Linked DNA regions of Homo sapiens. The protein of the gene in region 1 interacts with the protein of each later gene in a biochemical or structural test. Each region holds a gene or a part of one and is shown on either strand. Other genes may lie near its edges.

Evidence for each region.
Region 2: the proteins of NELFB (region 1) and DENR form a complex in vitro, tested with the Homo sapiens proteins (one study listed by BioGRID).
Region 3: the proteins of NELFB (region 1) and KHDRBS3 form a complex in vitro, tested with the Homo sapiens proteins (one study listed by BioGRID).

Annotation. Positions count from the first base shown.
Region 1 is NC_000009.12:137,265,035-137,272,906, reverse strand, and holds part of NELFB (negative elongation factor B), read right to left. Parts: intron 7,031-7,872; coding exon 6,928-7,030; intron 6,577-6,927; coding exon 6,481-6,576; intron 5,964-6,480; coding exon 5,821-5,963; intron 5,668-5,820; coding exon 5,561-5,667; intron 827-5,560; coding exon 685-826; intron 401-684; coding exon 292-400; intron 126-291; coding exon 1-125. UniProt on the Homo sapiens protein: Essential component of the NELF complex, a complex that negatively regulates the elongation of transcription by RNA polymerase II.
Region 2 is NC_000012.12:122,755,447-122,763,318, reverse strand, and holds part of DENR (density-regulated protein), read right to left. Parts: intron 1,133-7,872; coding exon 1,113-1,132; intron 475-1,112; coding exon 390-474; intron 1-389. UniProt on the Homo sapiens protein: Translation regulator forming a complex with MCTS1 to promote translation reinitiation.
Region 3 is NC_000008.11:135,544,079-135,551,950, reverse strand, and holds part of KHDRBS3 (KH domain-containing, RNA-binding, signal transduction-associated protein 3), read right to left. Parts: intron 3,198-7,872; coding exon 3,051-3,197; intron 1-3,050. UniProt on the Homo sapiens protein: RNA-binding protein that plays a role in the regulation of alternative splicing and influences mRNA splice site selection and exon inclusion. Binds preferentially to the 5'-[AU]UAAA-3' motif in vitro.

The DNA.
Region 1 (7,872 bases):
ACGCTGGGGAGGGGCAGCTCCAGGGCCGGCGTCTCCGCAGCCTGTGCCGGGCTGGGCTTCCGGTGATCCAGCTGTTCCAGCTTCTCGCCGAGCTGGGAGTAAAGCTCCTTCACTGCCTCTCCGCTCTGCGGGGAACCACACCATGGGGCAGGCGAGGCGCATGGGCAGGCCCAGGGGGCACAGGGGTGGGTGCCCACCGACCACACACAAGCACCACAAGGGCAGCTTGGCAAGCACACACGGGCTGGTAGGGACCAGGTGCCTTCAGATGCAGCCCCCCCGGGCACCCACCTGGCCTGTAGGCTCCAGGGCCTTCTGCAACGCCTCCAGCTTAGACGGGGCCACCCTGGGGTGCAGGTGAATGAGGAGCCGCAGCGCGTGCCGGTGCACGTTCTCCTTCCTGGAAAAGGCCGTGCAGGGCTGGGGCAGGAGGCAGGCCCTGCTGTCTGCCCAGGCCCAGCCCAGATGCAGGTGGCCAAGGCCCCTGGAGACAGGACATGGCCAGCCTTTGGGACCCTCCCCAGCTGTGCCCAGGCACCCTGCAGGGCCACATGCGAGCCCTGGTGCCCAACAGACCCACCTGCGGACCCTCCGCCCCAGGCTGGGGACAGCAGCCACCTCTCAGGCTGCTACGGACAAGAGCTGAGAGGACAGAGCGGGCCGGATGGTACCCAGCAGGCCTACCTTGGAGAGGCGGTGAGGAAGAAGCCATCGAAGAGGCTGCTGCAGAAGTCCTCAAGGGCAAATTCGTCGGCCAGCAGCGCAAGGTTGCCCGTGAGCAGGTGGAGGAAGATGTCGCCAAAGGCCAAGTCGCCAAAGGTCTCCACTGCAGACACAGCAGGCATCAGCCCAGTGCCACTCACCCTGCCCACCCCAGAGGGCACCCTTGTCCTCAAAGACCTCAGAACCTACTTCTGGGGGTGCTCACATGAGAGTTCTCAGTTGTTCTGAGATGAGAAGCACAGGGTCTCAGCAGGTGAAGAGGGGGGTGGGAAGTGGACAGAGGCAGGCAGGGGGTGGGACCTGTGGCAGGGAAGCAGAGCTGCAGCCCAGGGACAGGAGGGTGGAGGGAGGGGGAGACAGCCCAGGGACAGGAGGAGGGTGGAGGGAGGGGGAGACAGCCCGGGGACAGGAGGAGGGTGGAGGAAGAAGGAGACAGAAAAACGAGGTGCTCCTCCAGTCCCAAAAGGCCTTGCCCAGCAGCCGAGCCCAGGAGAAACAAGCCTAACAAATACAGGGCCGGCGCCAGCTGCAGAGAGTTCTCCCTGACTGCCAGCTACACTGAACCACAGGAAAGAGAACGAAACTCTTCCACATTCTTTTCTGAAGCCAGACACCAAAACACAACAAAGACAGCATTCGTGCCCACAGACGCCTCACGTGCGACCACAGCACAGAAGCCACGGTGTTGGCAGACATTTGCCAAGAGCCAGCACAACGCCCCAAACGGGGCCCCTGCAGGGAGGGAGGGCGGCCGCCTGCAGACTGATGCCTGAAGGAGCTGTGGCCAGGCCACATGGAGGTGACGTGTGCGGACAGGTTGAGGATGGCCTTCCTAGTATCCCGGATGGGGCCTTTATGAGGACAACCCAGCTGGCGCCACCTGCGCCCAGAGTGACAGAAACATTTCCAGGAGACCCAGGCCCCCGAGGTGCCTGCCTGCCACATCTCACAGGGCCTTGGCCGGCCACATGGCCAGGTGGCCACGGGACACGTGGCAGGCACACAGTCCCGACCAGGGGATCCAGCAGCAAGGCCCCACTGGGCAAATGCCCTGATTCCTGCAACTCCGGGGAACCCAAGACTGCGAGACAGGAGAGGGGACAGCAGGCGCATCCCAACCCTGACGGGACCGTCCACACAGCAGGCAGGAGACACCTGGAGAAGCGCAGCCACTGTCAGGCAGTCAGTCGGCAGAGGAGCGGCAGTGAACCTGGCTCAGATGTGACAGTGGCCCGTGGTCCGTGGTCACTGGTTTTTATTTTTTTTGAGAAGAGTCTCACTCTGTTAGCCAGGCTGGAGTGCAGCGGTGCAATCTCAGCTCACTGCAACCTCCACCTCCCGGGTTCAAGCGATCCTTCTGCCTCAGCCTCCCTCAGCTGGGATTACACGCGTGCGCCACCGCGCCGGGCTAATTTTTCTATTTTTAGTAGAGATGGGGTTTCGCCACATTGGCCAGGCTGGTCTGGAACTCCTGACCTCAGGTGATCCGCCCGCCTCGGCCTCCCAAAGCGCTGGGATTACAAGGTGAGCCACCATGCCTGGCCAGTTTTTTAAAGGCATTTAAAGACAGTCTTATTTTTTATTTGTTTTTTTTGAGACGGAGTCTCGCTCTGTCACCCAGGCTGGAGTGCAGTGGTGCAATCTCGGCTCACTGCAACCTCTGCCTCCTGGGTTCAAGCGATTCTCCTGCCTCACCCTCCCGAGTAGCTGGGACTACAGGCATGCGTCACACACGCGGCTAATTTCTGTATTTTTAATAGAGATGGGATTCCACCATGTTGGCCAGGCTGGTCTGGAACTCCTGACCTCAGGTGATCCACCCGCCTTGGCCTCCCAAAGTGCTAGGATTACAGGCATGAGCCACCAAGCCCGGCTCCCCGCCCTTTTTTTTTTTTTTTTTTTTGAGACGGAGTCTGGCTTTGTCGCCCAGGCTGGAGGGCAGTGCCGTGATCTCGATTCACTGCAACCTCTGCCTCCCAGGTTCAAGCGATTCTCCTGTAAACGCATCCTTCTTTTGTAGAGATGCCTACGTCTGCAGCCTGCATGCTGTGATGTCTCAGATTTACACCCAGACATCGTGCTGAGGGACAGGCGGCCACACGCAGACCCCACGTGGACCCCGGGGAGGTTGGAGATGGTGCTGGGTCCTCACCGTACCATGCTCTTGACTTCGTATTCTTTCACAAATTCCCACCACAAAATGTTAAAAAATAAACAGGAGAGAATTCTAAAAATCAACATCCATTCTTACTAGAACCCGCTAAAAACTTAAGAACACGCGTGCTCTCCCCAAATGTGACTGAAAATGCACATCCCACCCCGTGGGGCAGCCACGTACTCCGAGAAGCTGCACTCCTGGTTCCCAGCCTGTTTCTAGCCACAATCAAATGAGAGAAAGAAACAGAAGCGCACGGAAGGCCTCCCAGGTGAGTCTGTCATTGTGCGAACTCCACAGTGACTGACACAAATCCAGAAGGTGCCACCCACTGCACACTGGGCTGGGCCATGGCCTCATGCCCCTGAGCTAGACACCTGCACAGCACATGGCTGTACTGAGTACTGAAGGCTGCTGGGACACAATGGCAACTGTGTATCTAAATAGAGAAAGTGGAGTAAAAATACAGTATTGTCAGCTTATGTGACCGCGTGGTCGTATATGTGGTCCACGGTAGACAGAATGTTATGTGACACGTGACTGTACTGCAGTGGGCAGGCCAAGGCAAATTAAAGTTATTTATAACTATGTTCCCGGAAGTCTCAAAAAATAAACAAACCGGCTCTGCCCGGCGGCCGGCAGCACGATGTCCCAATGCCCTCAAGAGCCTCCCTGAGCCTCCAGAAGGAGCGGCAGTGTTGGCACCCGCAGAAGCCCAGGAGGTCATGTCTGCCTGCGCTGTCTAATGCCACTGTCTGTGGTCATTCGTTCCAGCAACAACAGGAAACCCAGGCCCAGGCAACCCAAGCTCAGTGAGAGGATGGCTGGGGACAGGTTAATACCCACAGGTAACTTCCTCCACAAAGAAAGCTGGAAAACGCATGCACGCGCCATCCTCAAACACACCAGCCACCGAGAAACACAATAGGCACGTGCTGTGGTGTGGACGTGTCCCCAAGTTCACCATCGGAAACCTGATCCCCAACGCAACACTGCTGAGGTCGTGAGGGCTCCGTCCTCACCAAAGCGTTCTCGCTGTTAGCACAGGAGTGGCTCCTGATAAAAGGGTAAGTGTGGCCCCTTCTCTGTCTCCGTCTGTCTGTGTCTCATCTCTAGCTCTGTCTCTCATCTGTCTCTGTCCTGTGTCTCTCATCTGTCTGTCTCCATGTCTCTCCTGTCTCTGTCTCTCTTACCTGTCTCTCATCTCTCTGTGTCTCATCTCTGTCTCTGTGTCTCTCATCTTTGTCTCTCATCTTGGTCTGTGTGTCTCTGTCTCTCATCTCTGTCTGTGTCTGTCTGTCTCCCCTGCCCGTGCTCTCTTGCCCTCTGCCTTCCACCATGGGATGACACAGCAAAAAGCCCCAGCCAGATGCAGGCCCCTTGACCTCGGACTTCCCATCCCAGCCCGCAGAACTGGGAGAAGTCCCTGCTCTTTGTTTTTTTGAGACGGAGTCTCGCTCTGTCGCCTGGGCTGGAGTGCAATAGTGCAATCTCCACTCACTGCAACCTCCACCTCCCAGGTTCAAGGGATTCTCCTGCTTCAGCCTCCCAAGTAGCTGAGATTACAGGCACCCACCACCATGCCCAACCAATTTTTGTATTTTTTTAGTAGAGACAGGGTTTCACCATGTTGGCCAGACTGGTCTCGAACTCCTGACCTCGTGATCCGCCCGCCTCAGCCTCCCAAAGCACTGGGATTACAGGCCTGAGCCACCGTGCCCGGCCGTCCCTGCCCTTTCTACACTACTCAGTCTCAAGTCTCTGTTAGAGCAGCATAACGTGGACTAAGACAGCAAACCCCAGACAAGGCCTGAGTCAGCAAGGAAGAGCCCAGGGTCTGTGTCACAGTGGGTACCGCAAGGCTAAAGAGGCCCCATCTCCCATGGGACCCACAGCAGGCTAAAGAGGCCCCATCTCCCAGGGGACCTGCAGCTCTACTCTTGAAGGTGCCCATTTGGACCCTTCCTCTTCTTCCTGGCTTGCAACAACCCCTCCCCCGTCAAGGCCCCCAGGAGGAAGTGGGCCTGTCACCACCTGGGGTGGGGCACTGGGGCAGGGGATCTCTCTCCCTCCCCTTTGCTCCATTCTCTGAGCACCTGAGGGGTCCCAAGCCCCTCGCCAGTTAGGATGAAATAAAGACAGCTCTTACATCACCTTTTTGTGGGAAAGCACAAAGTTGAACTCCCTCTCCCTTTCCTAGTAAAATAAACTACAAACAAAAGTAAAAGTGAAAACGAGGCTGGGAGTGGTGGCTCACACCTGTCATCCCAACACTTTGGGAGGCCGAGGCGGGCGGATCATGAAGTCAGGAGTTCGAGACCAGCCCAACCAACATGGAGAAACCCCGTCTCTACTAAAAATACAAAAATTAGCCTGGCACGGTGGCACGCGCCTGTAATCCCAGCTACTCAGGAGGGTGAGGCACGAGAAATCACTTGAACCTAGGAGGCAGAGGCTGCAGTGAGCTGAGGTTGCACCACTGCACTCCAGCCTGGGCGACAGAGCAAGACTCCATCTCAAAAAAAAAAAAAAAAAAAAGGTGAAAACAAAGCTAGCAAAGTTGGAGGTGGGCTGGGGAGACAAGGCAGCTCCTGGGGGCCCTGGGGCCCGCACCCTGGGCAGGACTGCATACGGCAGCTGCCGCAGGGAAGACACAGCCAGGCACCGCCCGTCAGGACTTACCCAGCCCGGGCAGCAGGCGGAGGAGCGCGTTCTTGTTCCTCTGCTTGGTGATGTGCAGGACGTAGTACAGCCCCACCTCGCAGGCCATGCGCTGCTCCTGCAGAAACCTGCGCCCGGGGCGCCATCAGCCCCACCTCAGCCCCACCTCAGCCCCACCTCAGCCCCACACCGACCCCTGCCCAGCCCTGAGGCAGCCCCCTGGGCAACAGTGCCATCCCTGCGCCACGGCCACCCCTGCACCATGGCCCTACAGCCCGTACTTAGTGAAGCTTTCGGGAAGTGTGTTTGGATATGAGACTGGGGCTTTCTCCTCAGCCGGAAGTTTCTGATCCACATTGAAAGTGTAGTCATCCACCAGGAAGGACATGAGCATCGGGAGGAACCTGGTGATGAGCTCTACCTCCTACGAGGAGGGGAGGCCATGAGCGGGCGCGGGCCCGGGCCCTGCCCCACCCCACCCTGACGTGACACACACCCTGCCCCTGGCCCTCCCACTCCCCCAGATACCTCACCGACCCTCCCTCCTCTCCAGGTCCCCAGGTCCCTCTTCCCACCTCCCGAGTCCCCCACCCAGGCCATCTCCTCAAACCCCCTTCTAGGTCTGGACCCACATGGAGTAGTCACCACCTGTGGCCAGCCATGGTCCATGGAGACACCCCCAGAACAAGCCACGGTCCACGGAGACACCCCAGAACCAGCCACGGGCCATGGAGATACCCCAGAACCAGCCAGGGTCCACGGAGACACCCCAGAACCTCCCTGGTGGGCATTTTCCCAAAAGGAAGGTGGGCAGCTCCAGGAAGGAAGCTTTGGGACCAAAGGGGCCTCCACAATCACCTTGCTAGCGCCTCCCCCTCCACCCCACTTCCAGCCCACAACCCCTCGTAGGAAACTGGCAGCCCCCACAGGAGGCTCGTTACCATCTTGGGCTCCTTGAAGACCTGGCTGTCGATCATGTCCCAGGCTCCCTGGCCCAGCGCCAGCAGCCGGAGCAGCAGCAGGAGGTCGGGGCTGTCCTGTAGGGAGGACGGGCTCAGCGCCTCTCCCAGGCAGCTGTGTCCTGGCCATGGAGCTCCTCTGACCCTACTCGTTACTCAGCAGGATCTCTGGTGCCCATGGCCAGGACCACACGACTGCGATCACCAGCCCCACACACGGGGTGAAACGCAGTCTCACAGCGGGGAAGCACACGCCTCTACCTGGGCCACTGCAGTCCACATCCCCGACCACCAGAGCAGCCAGCAGGGCGGCCACAGGGCCCCAACAGCTGCCTCCACCTGGCCGCTGCTGTCCACACCCTGACCACCCAGAGCAGCCAGCGGAGTGGCCGCATGGCCCCGACAGCTGCTGGCCAAGCCCACACTCACCCTGGGCAGTGTCTCCTGGCCGACCAGCTCCTGCAGGTGCCTGACTGTGCTCAGTGCCAGCGTGTTGATGGCGAAGGGGTCACACAGGATCATGGACAGGTCCCTGGAAGGAGGCCGCCCTGGCATTAATGCGACGCCTGTTGCCCCTCCCTTCAGCGGCACAGTCCTCAGGAGGGGTGGCCTAGGCTGAATTCAGGACTGGCAGCGGGTGCCCATCACATGCTGGGTTTCTTACAAAAAGCTTAAGGATGGCCGAGCGCGGCGGCTCAGCCTGTCATCCCAGCACTTTGGCAGGCCGGGCGCGGCGGCTCAGCCTGTCATCCCAGCACTTTGGCAGGCCGAGGCGGATGGATCACCAGGTCAGGAGACTGAGACCAGCCTGGCTAACAAAGTGAAACCCTGTCTCTACCAAAAATACAAAAAATTAGCCGGGCGTGGTGGTGGTCGCCTGTGGTCCCAGCTACTCGGGAGGCTGAGGCAGGAGAATCACTTGAACCCGGGAGGCAGAGCTTGCAGTGAGCCAGGATCGCGTCACTGCACTCCAGCCTGGGCAAGAGAGCGAGACTCTGTCTCAAAAAAAAAAAAAAAAAAAGCTTAAGGTTTGCAATTTGTCCTTAACCTATTCAAAGATTTTTCAAATTAAAAAGTTAAAAAAACAAACAAAAAAAAGGCTGGGTGTGGTGGCTCACGCCTGTCATCCCAGCACTTTGGGATGCTGAGGCCGGTGGATTGTTTGTTTGAGACTAGCCCGGGCGAGGTGGTGAAATCCCATCTCTACTAAAGATAACAAAAATCGGCCAGGCGCACTGGTGTGTGCCTGTAATCCCAGCACTTTGGGAGGCGGAGACAGCAGGATCAATGCCCAGGAGGTTGAGGGAGACTGTACCACTGCACTAAAGCCTGGGTGACAGAGACCCTGTCTCAGAAAAAAAAAAAAAAAAAAAA
Region 2 (7,872 bases), on another chromosome or scaffold:
CACGCCGTTCTCCTGCCTCACCCTCCTGAGTAGCTGGGACTACAGGTGCCTGCCACCACGCCTTTTTTTTTTTTCATTTTTAGTAGAGATGGGGTTTCACTGTGTTAGCCAAGATGATCTTGATCTCCTGACCTTGTGATCCGCCTGCCTCAGCCTCCCAAACTGCTAGGATTATAGGTGTGAGCCACTGCGCCCGGCCCATTTACTTTTTTATGTAAGAAAGTTGATATTCAGACCTATCCTATCTCAGAGAGAACTTAAACAGCTAACAGATAAATGTTAATTCTGTAATATCCTACTAAAGGAGGACTTTCCTATCTTTAGAATAATGCCATACATGCATTTGTCTCAGGTACAGAAGTTTAATGCAAGAAAAAAAATGTTCATACCTACAGTAAGTTTTGCAAATTCATTTGGAAAATTCTTCTCTAACCATTGTCTACATTTAGCAACATCAGGCATATATTCACAGTACTAGGAGAAAAAAAAAGAACTGAGTCACAACAAAACATTTTCAGTCAAACAATATGTCGTAATTAAAAATCACCCCCTATACTTGTTAATACAAAGAATAAAACAAACCACTCCCATCTGACTTCTTATCCACAGGAAATCTGTATTCAACCACGATATGTCCCATAAAAAATTAGATATTAAGAAGGATTAGGTACCTCTTCACAGTACCAATTTATTTCTTCTCCCTCTATTTCTTGCTTTGAGCACATAAGTGCCTCATTTTCATGACTTGCTCATAGAGCTGGACTTAGAAAGTCTTACACATAATTTATACTGCCCTTTCTTTCCTCTGCTCATTTGTATAGATTTTGGCATTAAGGTTACTCTTATTTTATTAGCTGACTATTCATAAGTCCCATGCAAAAATCCAAACTGCACAGCCATGTGCAAAAGATGCACATGTATGATTTAAGGTCTAAATTTAGGAAAGAATATATAAGACCAAAAAATTACTCTAAATCAAAGTTCTCTATAAAAGGTTAAAGCTTTACTATCAAATAATCAAAAATGAAAAATAAAAAAAAATTCTCAAGGTAGCTTTAAAACCAAGAATAACTTCAAATACATAAGGTAAAAAAAAAAATTAAAGAACTTACCTCTGTTGGTAATGAACAGACTGAGGAAGTAAAAAGAAAAAAGATTTGAAATGTTAAACCTATATGTACACACATACACAGGGCTTATCCTTACTTTTATATTTGAGAAAATGCTTCATTTTTACATTTTCCCTATAAGTTTTCTATACCACTTTTCAAATGCTACTCTTCAGTGTTTTTGGGGTAAAAGGCACATGGTTATTTGAGATGATACTATCTTGACTTTTTCATCTAAAGAGTGTCTCCATCAGCTGATGGAACATCAAAATATGCTATTTTGTATATAATGAGGTCTTACCATAACCATTTCAGTGGGTCAAAAAATTAAGCTAAGACACGAACAATTTCCCATACATCAGAGTTTGAAGGAAACTGGTTATTTCTTTTCTTTTGAGACACGGTCTCACTCTGTTGCCCAGGCTGGGGTGCAGTGGTGCAATCATGGCTCAATGCAGCCTCCACCCCTCCAGGGGCTCAAATGATCCTCCCACCTCAGTCTCCCAACTAAATGGGACTACAGATGCACACCACCATGCCCAGCTAATTTTTTGTAGAGACAAGGTTTCACCATGTTGCCCAGGCTAGTCTCAAACTTCTGGGCTTAAGCGATCTACCTATCTTAGCTTCCCAAAGTGCTGGGATCACAGGCGTGAAGCACTGTTCCCAGCCTGGTTATTTCTTTTGATGGTTCTACCAAAACAGCCACCACTTTTTATTCATACTGACACATTTATAAACTTTAGCAGCATTTTTACTACCATCTTTTTGCAATATATTTTTCCTTTTTTTTTTTCTGAGACAGAGTCTTGCTCTTTCTGCCAGGCTGGAGTGCAGAGGCACGATCTCGGCTCACTGCAACTTCTGTCTCCTGGGCTCAAGAAATTCTCCTGCCTCAGCCTCCCAAGTAGCTGGGATTACAGGCGTGTGCCACCACGCCCGGCTAATTTTTGTATTTTTAGTAGAGACGGGGTTTCACCATGTTGGCCAGACTGGTCTCAAACTCCTGACCTCAGGTAATCCGTCCGCCTCAGCCTCCCAAAGTGCTGGGATTACAGGCATGAGCCACCGCACCTGGCCTATTTTTTTTAGAGTAAGGGTCTCACTCTCACTCTGTCACTCAGGCTGGAGTGTAGTGGTGTGTCCATGGCTCACTGCAGCCTCGAACTCCTCAGCTCAAGTAATCCTCCCGCTTCAGCCTCCCAAGTAGCTGGGACTATAAGCGTGAGCCACTATGTACAGGTAAGTTTTTTATTTTTGTAGAGACGGGATCTCGCTATGTTGCCAAGGCTTTTTCATGTTATGCTACATAAGATCATGAAAGTGTAAAGCTAGAAGGAATCTTGGTTCAATCCTGTCATTTGGTGTTAGAGCCTGTACAGGCTAATAATGGACTAGAAGAACTGGAAAAGCTTCCAATTTTAACCGTAATTCTAATACTGGGTCAACTGCTTATTTTGTTTTTATTTATTTATTTTTGAGACGGAGTCTTGCTCTTTCACCCAGGCCGGACTGCAGTAGCACTATCTCGGCTCACTGCAAGCTCCGCCTCCCGGGTTCACGCCATTCTCCTGCCTCAGTCTCCAGAGTAGCTGGGACTACAGGTGCCCGCCACCGCGCCCGGCTAATTTTTTGTATTTTTAGTAAAGACGGGGTTTCACAGTATTAGCTAGGATGGTCTCGATCTCCTGACCTTGTGATCCGCCCGCCTCAGCCTCCCAAAGTGCTGGGATTACAGGAGTGAGCCACCGCGCCCGGCCTTTTGTTTTTATGTTTAAGGTTTAGAATGGAGTAGTTCAGTGTGTCCAATATCCTGAGATTTCTCAGGGAGAGGAAGGTGGTATACCATGTAGTCACAGCAATTACTACACACTGGGCACCTAGTATGTGCCAAATGTTTTGCTATGCCTTATATACATTATTATGTTTAGTTATCACAACCTTGTAAGATAAGTACCATATCTATATTCAGATGATGAAACTGAGGCTTAGAGTACATAACCACTTGCATCTGGATAACAGGATTTGAATCTGCCTGTTTCTGACGCTCATGCTATTAACCACTAACTTAGGTTACACAAAGTAAACAAGCAACTTAGTGGCACCTGACAGCTGAAAATGATCTGCCTTCACCTCACCCTACTAACATTCTAACATGCTACCACACAATCACTATTTTACAGATGGGGCACTAAAAGAGTTAAACAGCTCATACAATGACAAAGGTGGTATGTGGCAGAAGAAAACTGGAATCCATTGGTTTTGTCCAGTCTAGTCTATTATAGTTTAGGGTTATTTCCACCAAAGATCTCTCTGGTTAGCTACAGCCCTATATTCCTCACAATTCAAGTTCAAATACTAGGCATAGTTGTTCAGCCACACTTTCAGGATATAACTATACAATTATTGGTTAAACACCATCACAGCAAATACTAAAGCTACAAATTTTGTATACTATTTCAAATAATATTTAGTTCAGAAAAAAAAAAAAATTGGGGTTTTGCTCTGTTGCCCAGGCTGGAGTGCAATGGCACCATCTCAGCTGGCTGCAACCTCTACCTCCTGGGTCCAAGTGATTCTCGTAGCTCAGCCTCCCGAGTAGCTGGGATTACAGGTGTGCACCACCACACCCAGCTAATTTTTGTATTTTTAGTAGAGACAGGGTTTTGCCATGTTGGCCAGGCTGGTCTTGAACTCCTGGCCTCAAGTGATCTGCCTGCCTTGGCCTCAGCCTCCCAAAGTGCTGTGATTACAGGTGTGAGCCACTGTGCCTGGCCCGGTTCAGCAAAATTCTAATGCAATAAAAAAATTGGGGGAGCTCCTTTAAGTTCACCATTATTTGCTTTAAAAAAGTCAATTTCTCTTTACAGATCACTTACTTATTTGGAAAGGGAAAACTGTACCTTTTCAATGCAAACATTTAGCCGTCACCTTCAAACTTAGCATCACTAATAGTGAAACATCTGACATTATGAGCTCTTGATGCAATGCAACATGATGAATGAAACATCATCCACGAAACTTTCTTGCCAAAATCTGTTTAACTTGAATCTAATTAAGCCTCTAGGCCGGGTGTGGTGGCTCACGTCTACAATCCCAGCACTTTGGGAGGCCGAGGTGGTGGATCACCTGAGGTCAGGAGTTCAAGACCAGCCTGGCCAACATGGTGAAACCCCATCTCTACTAAAAATACAAAAATTAGCCGGGTGTGGTGGCGCACACCTGTAGTCCCAGCTACTCAGAAGGCTGAGGCAGGAGAATCGCTTGATCCTGGGACGCAGAGGCTGCAGTGAGCTGAGACTGCCACTGCACTCCAGCCTGGGCAACAGGGCAAGACTCCAACTCAAAAAAAAAATAAATAAATAAAAAATTAAGCCTCTAGACTCCAGCTTCTTTTTTTTTGTTAAAGAGACAGTCTCACTTTGTCACCCAGGCTATAGTGCAGTGATGTGATCTTAACTCATGCAGCCTTGAACTCCTGGGCTTAAGTGTTCCTTCCACTACAGCCTCCGAGTAGCTGGAACTACAGGCACTTGCCACCACACCTGGCTAATTTATTTAATTTTTTGTAGAGGCAGGGTCTCACTATGTTGCCCAGGCTGGTCTCAAACTCCTGAGCTCAGATGATCTGCCTGCCTCGGCCTCCCAAAGTGTTGGAATTAAAGGTGTGAGCCACTGTGCCTGGCCAAATGAGCAAAGTTACCACCACATGGAAACATGGAATGGGACTAATCCACAGCCAGGTACCTCTTGATAAAATGCACTGAAATTAACAGCACTTCTGTGGTGGTCTTGGCACAAGATCATAAACTAAATCTAGTCTTAAGAACACATCAGAATGGCCGGGTCTGGTGGCTCACGCCTGTAATCCCAACACTTTGGGAGGCCGAGGCGGGTGGATCACAAGGTCAGGAGTTCAAGACCAGCCTGGCCAAGATGGTGAAACCTCATCTCTACTAAAAATACAAAAATCAGCCAGGCACGGTGGCAGGCGCCTGTAATCTCCGCTACTCGGGAGGCTGAACCAGGAGAATCACTTGAACCCTGGAGGCGGAGGTTGCAGTGAGCCGAGATCACGCCATTACACTCCAGTCTGGGCAACAGAGTGAGACTCCTTCTGAAAAACAAACAAACAAAAACTGCCTTTCTATAACAGAGAATGAACAGCCACAATCAGCTTCCTGAAAGTCAATATTTTCAATTACAAATTTCGCTGTCAACAGTCACCAAAATCACTAACTTTGCACACAGTGTCACTAAGCCTCAATCATCTCATACTTTAAAGTCTTCTAAATTTGGGGAGGAGGGTGGAAAAGATTAAAATAAAAATAAAGTCTCCTAAACTTGATTTCTGTGGCCAGTTTCAACCCATTTCAGGCACTTCCTCCTTCCTTCCAAACAGTTATTATCCAAAAAGATATAACCAATCACATCACTTCCCAGATTAAGAACTTTTCAAACATCTTATCGTACTTCTCCAGACTCAACTCCTACCAGCCCATGGTCCAACCACAATGAACTTCTATCCATGCCATTCTTTTCAGCAAACACCTATTCATCCTTCAAGACTCTGCTAAGTTTCCTTGAAGCTGATGTTATAATGGCTTGTCTTGGATTTTAATCCTGGCCCCACCACTTATACAATTGAGAAGCTTATCATCAATAAAACTGTAATATTTCAATTTTGAAGATTAAATATACAAACATAAAATCCACTCAATACTTTAACTTTCCCTTTTTTCAGTTCTCCCAAGTAGAACTGGTTGGTTCTTTATTCTCACTGCAGTCTGCTCACCCCTCTAGTATACAATTAGTACATTATAACTCACCTGTTAAAATGTTTGTCTTCCCAGTTAAGCTCAGTTTCCAGGAGATAATTATGTCTTATTTCTGTATATGGAGCACAATGCTTGCCACAGAGCAGATGCTTAAAACGTGTTTCCTAAATGAATTTGAGCTGCTCTCTGAAACCCCAGACTTTAGCTGAGAGCAAATTCTCTAATTTGCATCCTTCTTTTTGCAAAAGGGGAAAGGGAGGGAGGGGGAAGGAATGATAAGAAAAATGCCTATGTCACTATCGCTTCTATTTTTCTCTTTAATCAGTTGGGTATTCTATTGGAGGGTTTTCCCTCTTCTCTAAGCACTCCAGCAATACTAAATGTCTGTCAAAACTACATCCAGTTTATTTCTCCCATCTCCCTTGTCCTCAAATCTGATTAACTGCTTTATACTGTTCATCCTACCATAATTTATTTTTCAACCTCTCTTCCTCACTTATGCCACTCATTTAAATGCTCATTAATTTTGTCTAAAGTCTTATTATAGCCTGGCCAATAAGCCTGCCTCCCTCAATTGTTATCTTGCTGCCAGATTCATCTTCATGTAACTTCACTGCTCCAAAACTTTCAATGACTTACAATTATCTACAAATCAGGTGCCCCAGAACTTGGCCCCAAACCACGTTGCCATAATTTCCGGCTGCCCCTCTTCATGAATTCCACAATACAACCAAACTGTAACACTCGAAACTCCCTCCACACTACCCACTATTAAATACTTTCCTACCTCCACTCCTTTGCCTGGCAAGTCCAACCTTCAGCCCTTCTGTGCCTGCCTGAATGCAACCTTTCCTTCAAATCCCCATTTGGCTGTGGTTGCCTCTATGAAGTCTTCCCCTAATTTCCTACAAATCTCTCCCCTCCTGTACTGACACTGCAGCTATTAGTCCTTAATCTTTATTTCTTGTCTCTTTCTTCTTTTTTTTCTGGGATGGAGTTTTGCTCTCAAAGGCTGAGTGCAGTGGCACGATCTTGGCTCACTGCAATCTCCGCCTCCCAGGTTTAAGCGATTCTCCTGCCTCAGCCTCCCGAGTAGCTGGGATTACAGGCGCCTGCCACTATGCCCAGCTAATTTTTGTATTTTTAGTAGAGACAGGGTTTCACCATGTTGGCCAGGCTGGTCTTGAACTCCTGACCTCAGCTGATCCACCCACCTTGGCCTCCCAAAGTGCTTGGATTACAGGTGTGAGCCACCGCGCCTGGCCTATTTCTTGTCTCTTTCTTTCAGCATTCATCATCTTCCCTGTTAAGTTATATGTAGACAGACAGGGCCTCTGCCAATTTATATGCCTCCACAGAACTTAGCCGAGGACCTTATACATCAGAGATACTAGGTAAAAATTGTTTATAGTCTTTGTAAATTGTTGATTATGATGTGGACTCTATTAACAATGTCATCATACCTTCTTACCAAGCTGGCTAACAAAATCCACTACTTTTACAAAATGGTAATGTTAGAAATTAAAAGGTACAGTCTAATCCCATCTCCACTACTAGTTTCTTCAATTAAGCATAAGAATGTTTTTACATTAAGTGGAAGCCTGTACTGTTCTGGAGAGTGTTGACAAGGTAGAAAGGCACCTTTCAGTAGTTTCCACTTTAGTCCTAGTTCACTGACCCTCTGAGGTCACAGGGAATAGATCTTATCCTTTACTCACATAGGTTTCCAAATTTAAAGAGTTGTTTCACAGGTAATCATTATATAAAAATATAATAGGAATCTATATTCTGAGCATCTTGTTAAAATAAATGTATCAGTTTTTCTCACATCCTTAGTTTTGTTTTTTATTTTTGAGATGGGGTCTCGCACTGTTGCCCGGGTGGGAGTGCAATGGCGTGATCTCGGCTCACTGCAACCTCTGCCTCCCGGGTTCAAGTGATTCTCCTGCCTCAGCCTCCCAAGTAGCTGGGATTACAGGTGCCTG
Region 3 (7,872 bases), on another chromosome or scaffold:
ACAAAAAACAAAAACGATCAATCAATAATTATATAACCTGTTTTTTAGGATGTAGGTAAAATAAAGACATTCCCAGAAAAACAAAAGACTTTTTGCTAGCAGACCTAGGTTACAGGAAAGTCTAAAGAAAAACCTTCAGGCTGAAAAGAAATAATACCATATGGCAGCTCTATCCACAGGAAGAAATGAAGGGCACCCAAAATAGTATAAGTTAATATAAAAGACTCCAGAAAAATACTGTGCGACAAACCAATATCCTTCATAATTACAGATGTAAAAATCCTTAACAAACTATTAGTAAACCATATCTAGCAACACATAAAGAAGACTACATGCCATGACCAAGTGGGAATTATCCTCGGAATGCAAATGTGGCTTCACATCTGAAATCAACTAATGTAATACACTATTATTCACAAAATAAAGGAGAATAAAACCACACAATCATCTCAGGAGGAAAAAGATTTGCAAAATTCAATACCCATGTTTATACATTTATTCATGATAAAAACTCTCATCCTTTAGAAATATAAGAGAACTTCTTCAACATGACAAAGGGTAGCAATAAAAAAAACCTATAGCCAATGGTGAAAGACTGAATGCTTTCCCCTCCAATTTTAGAAACAACACTGCATTCACGGTTCTAGTCAGTGTCATAAGGAACGGAATGGAGTGGAATGGAATAGAATAGAATAACAACATTACATTAAAAAAATTAAAGGCATCCATATTGGAAAAGAACTAGTTAAGTTGTCTTTATTCACAGATGACATGCTCCTGTATTCCACTAATTAGGATTCCACTTAATCATTGTAGTGATTCTATTAAAAAAACACCACACTGGAACTAATAAACACGTTTGGCAAGATCACAAGATACAAAATCAATATACAAAACTCAATTGCATTTCTATACACTAGTAATCATCTGAAAATGAAATTTTAAAAATTGCACTCACAGTAGTATCAAAAAGTATACAATATTTACAAATCAATTTTGCAAAAGGAAAGGAAAAGGCTGACACCCTGAACACTATAAAACACTGTTGAGAAAAATTTTAAAATATCTTTTTTAAAAGTGAAGAAACATTTCATGTTCCTGGATTGGAAAACTCAAAATTGTTAAGATGAAAATTATCCCCAAACTGATCTATAGATTCAATATAATATCTATCAAATCCTAGCCAGCTTTTTTTTAATAGAAATTAAGAAGCTGATCCTAAAACACATATGAAAATGCTAAGAAGCCAGAAAAGCCAAAAAATGTTTGAAAAAGAACAAAGGTGGACAATTTACACAACCTAGATTTCCAGATTTACTTAAGGCTAAAGTAATTAAGAGCATGCTACTGGCATTAAGAGTAGGCATACAAATCAATGAAAAAGAATTTGAGAATGCAGAAATAAACCTTTACATTTATGTTTAGTCAATTTTCAACAATGGTACTAAGGTACTGAATGAGGAAATGATTGTCTTTTCAACATATGGTGCTAGGACAACTGATATCCATCTAGAAAAAAATAAATTTAGAGACTAACCTCAAATATACAAATTAACTCAAAATGTATTTTAAGTGAAAGAATACTGAAAAATTTTTAAAATAAAACAGTAGAAAATCCTGGTGACCTTCATTAGGCAAAGACTTTTTTGGCCAGTCCAGATTCTGTGTGAGGTAAATTAGAGTCTACCTCTGGGGAAGGATCGTAAGGGTCATGGGATAAATGGTGCTACTGCAGCCATCTTTGGAAAAGAGAATCTGTTTCACCTGGCTAGATCTGCACTGCCTGGTCCACACTGCATGATCACCAAAACTTACTCCTCTCCTTAGCTGTGGTCTCGCCATAGTTTCAATTTTGTAGTCATTTATATGAAAAACTGACTCATATCTGACTCTTTGCCATTAAACTCCATGAGGGATCATGTATTTTATTAGTTCACATCTGCCTACCACATAGTAAGCCCTTAGAAATTTTGTTTTTAAACTAAAAGAAGAAATAGATTGTCATATTTGCTCATGGGAACTAAAGAAAATACTAGCCATTTCAGTTCCCAGGTTATTACATACTTAATGCAATTCTATGTCCTGGCTTTTTAAAGGCAAAAGTGATTTAAATATCCTTTCCCTATAAATATAATAATTGTTTTCCTCACAGATAATATAATCACAGTACATGTGCTGTAGTATGTAAGTCAATCCACCAAACTAACCTGGGATAACCAAAGACAGTCTTATCCAGAGAACTACTTGGCAGATGTGTCAGCTTCTCTAAAATAAATTGTCTGCAGAGCCAAAGTGTTGATGCTTTACGATTCTTTTTATCAAGAGCATGCAAATGACATAATAAGTCCTTTTATCAAGAGCATACAAATCACACAAAAGACTTAAATCAACTTTCGTAACAGAGGTAGAGATGTATTCCCTTTAAATTGTCACATCCTTAGCAATGTGAAGGTGTCTGAAAGGGTTAAAACAGACAGTCAATTTTTAACAAAACATCCAAAATACTTGGCAGAAGCTAGCTAAATAGCCCATCCCCTCTGGGCTCATTATGGTTATGTCTGTTATATTTATCATGTTGTACTGAAATCATCTGTTGATGTTTCTCTTTTCCTCTAAATTACGTATTATATTATACTAAATGAGGGCAGGGACTGCTTTTATTCAAGTCTGCATGCCAACACCAAGCACTGTGCATGGCACACAGAGGCACTAATGGTTTTGTGTTGGAGAACAAAAAAGTTGTACAGTGTCACATAAAATCGTAGGAAAAGCGTTTCAAAACCTGAACTAGTGATTGTGCTATGCAAGTTTTTTAGCCATGTAACCTTGGCCATATTATTAAATCTTCCTGAAATTCTAACACCTCATATATACATAAGGAATAATGCCCAGTAATTTACAAGGACAATGTAAGGTCTACTTGAGGTGATGTCCATACAGCTTTACAGCAGAAAAGGAGCTATGCAAATAACAGTTACAGACAAGAAGTATCAAGGATTAAAGCAAAGACTTTAAAGTACAAGTTAACTATCAAGAAAAATGGTACTAACAGGGATGAGGAACTTTTTGATTTCTTCCAAAGCATGTCCCATCCTGGCATAAGCTTCTGCAGGTGGGGCAAACACTTCAATGAGAACATGGAGATCATCATTGAGATGGAAGTACTTCGCTTCTCCACTTTTCCTCAACTCTTCTTCCTGGAAAAAGGAAAAAAGAAATCACATTTAAAAACGTGTCATTATAAGAAATGAAAGATAAATAAATAAATAAATAAAAACTAACCCCCAAAATAAAAACAATCCATCTGGCAAGCGGTTGTCACAGTAGACACTACTCTAAAAAAGAAGGTTTAAGCTATAAATGTGATCCTGATATTCCCAGGCTTTTACACACACTCAAAGGCTTCCTACTGCTGCTGGAATAATGTCCCACTCCAGACGCTGACTTGTAGGAGCCCCATCATCTGCTCACTTCCGCTGCTAGGGTGTCTTCACCTTCTCCAGTCTCCTTTGCTCAACCCTCCGCAGCCACTGCCCACACTTCTTTTGTGCTTCTCAACCTGGCTGAGCTCACGTGCTCACTTCTACACTGGCTGTGTGCGTCTCTGTGATGCTGGTACAAGGCACTTATCACTATCTGAAATAACTTATTTTTAAAAACATGTCTATTTTCTATCTTCTCTTAGTAAAAAGTGATTACCATGGAGCAGACACTGTGACTGCTTTGCTTAGTGATGCATTTTCCATGTCTAGAGAAGTGCTTGGTATACAGATGTTCAACAAAGATTCGTTGAATGAATGATTAAACATTCATTCATTGCTATGTCAATTTGCTCGTTCGCATATTCATTCAAAAAACATTTCTACATACCAAGCACTATATTCTATCTGAGAATAAAACAGTGAATAAAACAAAATGAAAGACTTTATTACGTTATTTTACATAATTATGACAAAGTTTTTAATCTTTGTTTGTTTCCATAAGGAAATGCAGGACGAAAATTAGGAGGAGAAAAAAACAGATCGTTAAGGAACTACTGATTTTGCTCCACTGCCTTTTCCTAACTAACCTTCAATTTTAGGTCCTGATTTCAGAATCTGGGTCTTCCATTAGTCTCTGTTTCCAATGTTAGTATCAGACAGATTAAGATTAACAGGAATCTGAGGCTAATTTCCAAAAGATAAGAAATCTTTCTAGTCTCTCAAAAAGGCTATCCCATAACCAAGAGAACCCCAGGAATTCCTGGCAATACCACCTTTTAATTTCACAATTAAGCAAGAGGCCAATAATAAAATAAATGCTAGAGGCACATAGCCCTTGACTTCACCCTTGAAGGATTCAACTTCTGTTACTTGACTAATTTGAACTCTTACAAAGAAAAGAAAGACTAATACACAGAGCGGGAAATGGGCATGGGATTTAGTCACCTATAATTTCATCTCAGCTATGCCAGTCACTAGCCATGTGAGTTTAGACAGACTGTATGTAATCCAATACTTAATTTGCAAAATCTGTTTATTGGTAGCACATGTATATTAATGCAGAACTACTGAGAATACAAGGCACAGCTTTATATAAATGCTGGCGAAAGGAGACAGTGTATATACTACCTAGTACACTGCCTAACATATAATAGGCACCAATACATGCTAGCTTCCATCACATTAATAGAAGTAGGCCAGAAACTGAATGAAAGGAAAAAATATAAGGGAATATATGTAAATATAAGCTGCCATAATATTCTATAAATTTCCTTTGAAATTTGTTTTGACTATACAAAACATTATCTTACGCCAACTCTTCATTGTTCTAATCAGAACATTTCAACCATCTGATCTGAATCTCTCTCATTGCTCAAGTTTTAAAAATTGCATTCTATGTACAGCAATTCATCCCTGAAAGCACAAATTATTGAAACAAACACTTATCCTTTTCTAATAGAGTATCAAAATAATGATGTTAATGAAAGATTATAATTGTTCATTATTATTCAAGCATTATTATTTCTATCACAAACTTAAGCTGGACAGAGAGGATTTCTTATCATAGCTGTAGCCAGGGTACAATCCCACAGAGAGGGGAGTTATTACCAAACTACTCTACAGATTAATGATGACAGGCAATGTGTTATTTGGAGAAAAACACAGATGTTGAAATTCTGCATTAAACCCCTAATTCAACATTAACTGTATGACTTGGGCAGATTACATTACCCTCATCTTAAAGGGGTGATTTTTAAGTGGGGAAAATAATAGTACAGTACTTATCTCATAAGGCTGTTATAGTAATAAAGGAGTTAACAAACAAAACGTCTTTAGGATGAAGCCTTGCACATAATAAGCGCTCAGTAAATGATAAATATAGTAATGATAATTATTATATCACTATCATTTATTCTATTATTGTATAGTATAAATGATGCAGGCAAAACATCCAGCATGAAGTTTGGCACAAGCTGAAAGCTCAACAGACCGGAGCACTGTCATGATTATTATGCTATGTAACCAACTAATATACATCAATAATGACTCCCATAATTTCATAAATGTAGCAAATAAATGCAGAAAAATTATATTCACATTAGATTTTAATAGTGAACACTTTGAAAATCTAAATGGATGAGATTAAAATAATAAGTAATGGGAATCTCTTTAGAAATAAACATATTAACTGATAACTTCTGAAAACTAAAACTAGTAAAAAGGATCAACTGAAATCAATATTCAAGAATTCAGGCAGTGACTATCTGATTATAATACAGCAGATGGGATACTAGTAGTATCTTTTTTTTTTTTAATTTATTTATTTTTTTGGGAGACAGAGTCTTGCTCTTTCACCCAGGTTAGAGTGCAGTGGCTCAATCTCAGCTCACTGCAACCTCTGCCTCCCGGGTTCAAGCAATTCTCGTGTCTCAGCATCTGAGTAGCCAGGATTACAGACGTGCACCACCATGCCCGGCTAATTTTTATATTTTTAGTATAGATGGGGTTTCACCATGTTGGCCAGGCTGGTCTCGAACTCCTGACCTCAGGTGATCACCCCGCCTTGGCCTCCCAAAGTGCTGGGATTACAGGCATGAGCCACCATGACTGGCCAGTATCCATTTAAGTTGCAAACCTGTTACTTAAATGATCATCTGTGGTCACCCTCAGTAAAATGCTTTTGAAAGAATGACTGATGGATCATGTGACAGAGGCTACAGCGCAGTATGGGACAAAAATGGGGAGAGGAGTACAGGTGGACAAGAGATAGACAAAACTGGTGGAAAAGAGTTTAGAGAGAAAATGACAGACTGGGGCTTTACATTATCAGTTCAAGCCCAAAGAGCCAGAAGTAAGCTAGGGTGCACCGCTTGCAGCCACAGGTTGACAGGGCCAACAAACAGGTGCAGAGTTCAAGTCTGTGTGCGGCTGAATAACAATACAGATGCTCAGCCGTCTCTTATGTGAGACTCAGGACAGTGTCTGGATAACAGTGAAAACCTAAGAATAAATTAAACCTGAGAACACATTGACGTCTGGGAGGATTCAAATAACTTTGAGTACTCAAATACTGAAATGCCACAGAGCCTTCCACACGGCAAAAGCCTGCCTGGTGATGTTTTTCCCATGTTGCTTACACAGCCGAGGTAGTTCCTTGAAGGGAGATGACAATTCTCATGCTTCACTACTCCTCCTCCTTATCATCTCCTGGCCTACGATCAATCTCTGCTTAACCAAACATGCAGAGAATAAGAGAGCTATGTTAAACCCAGGGGAAAGGCTGCTTGCGTACAGTAACTATGATATTTCCTAGTGTGTGAGCTTCCTCCTAGTCCTCCCAAAACAATGAATCTCTCTAATAAACCCAGATAATATATTCAAATTCTCTGAATCTCAGATCCCAGCAAGGATCTCGGACATTTTACTAGAGTGACTTTACACCGAGCAGAGGAAACACTTAGACAGTTTGAGAATTAACAGAACTGATTCTGACCTAATGCCACTCCACTGAGGGCCACCAAGCAGAGTGGGGCTTATGGGATTAGAAGGTAAGGAGACTTCTGGTCTCAGTCCACTGACAGTGGGTTCAGTGGATTGTAAATCCACAATGTATGCTACTCCCCTCCCTGGTTCCTGAGTGCCTTGATGAAATATACACAATCAGCCACTTGCAGAATCACCATACTGATTTCCAAAGACATAGAAATGAAAGAACCAGTGAATGGGTGATCTGGAAAAGAGGGTCAATCATGTAAAATCAGGGTGTCCCATGCAAATGCAGAGCTGGCATTCAGCCAGGTAGTCAAGAGGACTCATTGCAGCAGATGCTAGAGCACCTTAATCCCCAGCAGTCTCCATGCAACTCAAGGTGCTCATCAGCAAAATGGCCACGGTGGCCAGGAGGGAAGTCATGCATTACTTCATAACACCGACTCCCCTCAAAAAGGATCACTGGCTATTGACATGCTGTGTGTCCAATATGCCAACAGCAGACAGCCTTGATATGACAATATCATCTGGAAGGCCCACCAAGCCCTGACACCAAGCTGATAATATTTAGGATCCCTTTCATTATATGGGTAGTCAGGCACTTGCTGTTAACTCGGGCATACAATCCAGATAAAGCTTTGCCTTCCTTGTTTCCCTTCTACCTGTAAAATTCTTGTGGATGCCCTGATAACTACCACTGTATGCTACAAAACACTGCTTCTGACCAAGCAGTGGTTCTGACCAACCCCCTTAACAACAAACTAAATAAGTGGGACAGTGGAATCCTGCTTGTGGGTTTCACTGCTCATATCGTGCAGCCCATTACCAGATGGCCTTATTAGAGCGTGAACTAAGATATCAGCAAGGGTAGAGTACTTTCCTGCAAAATACACATAATTTC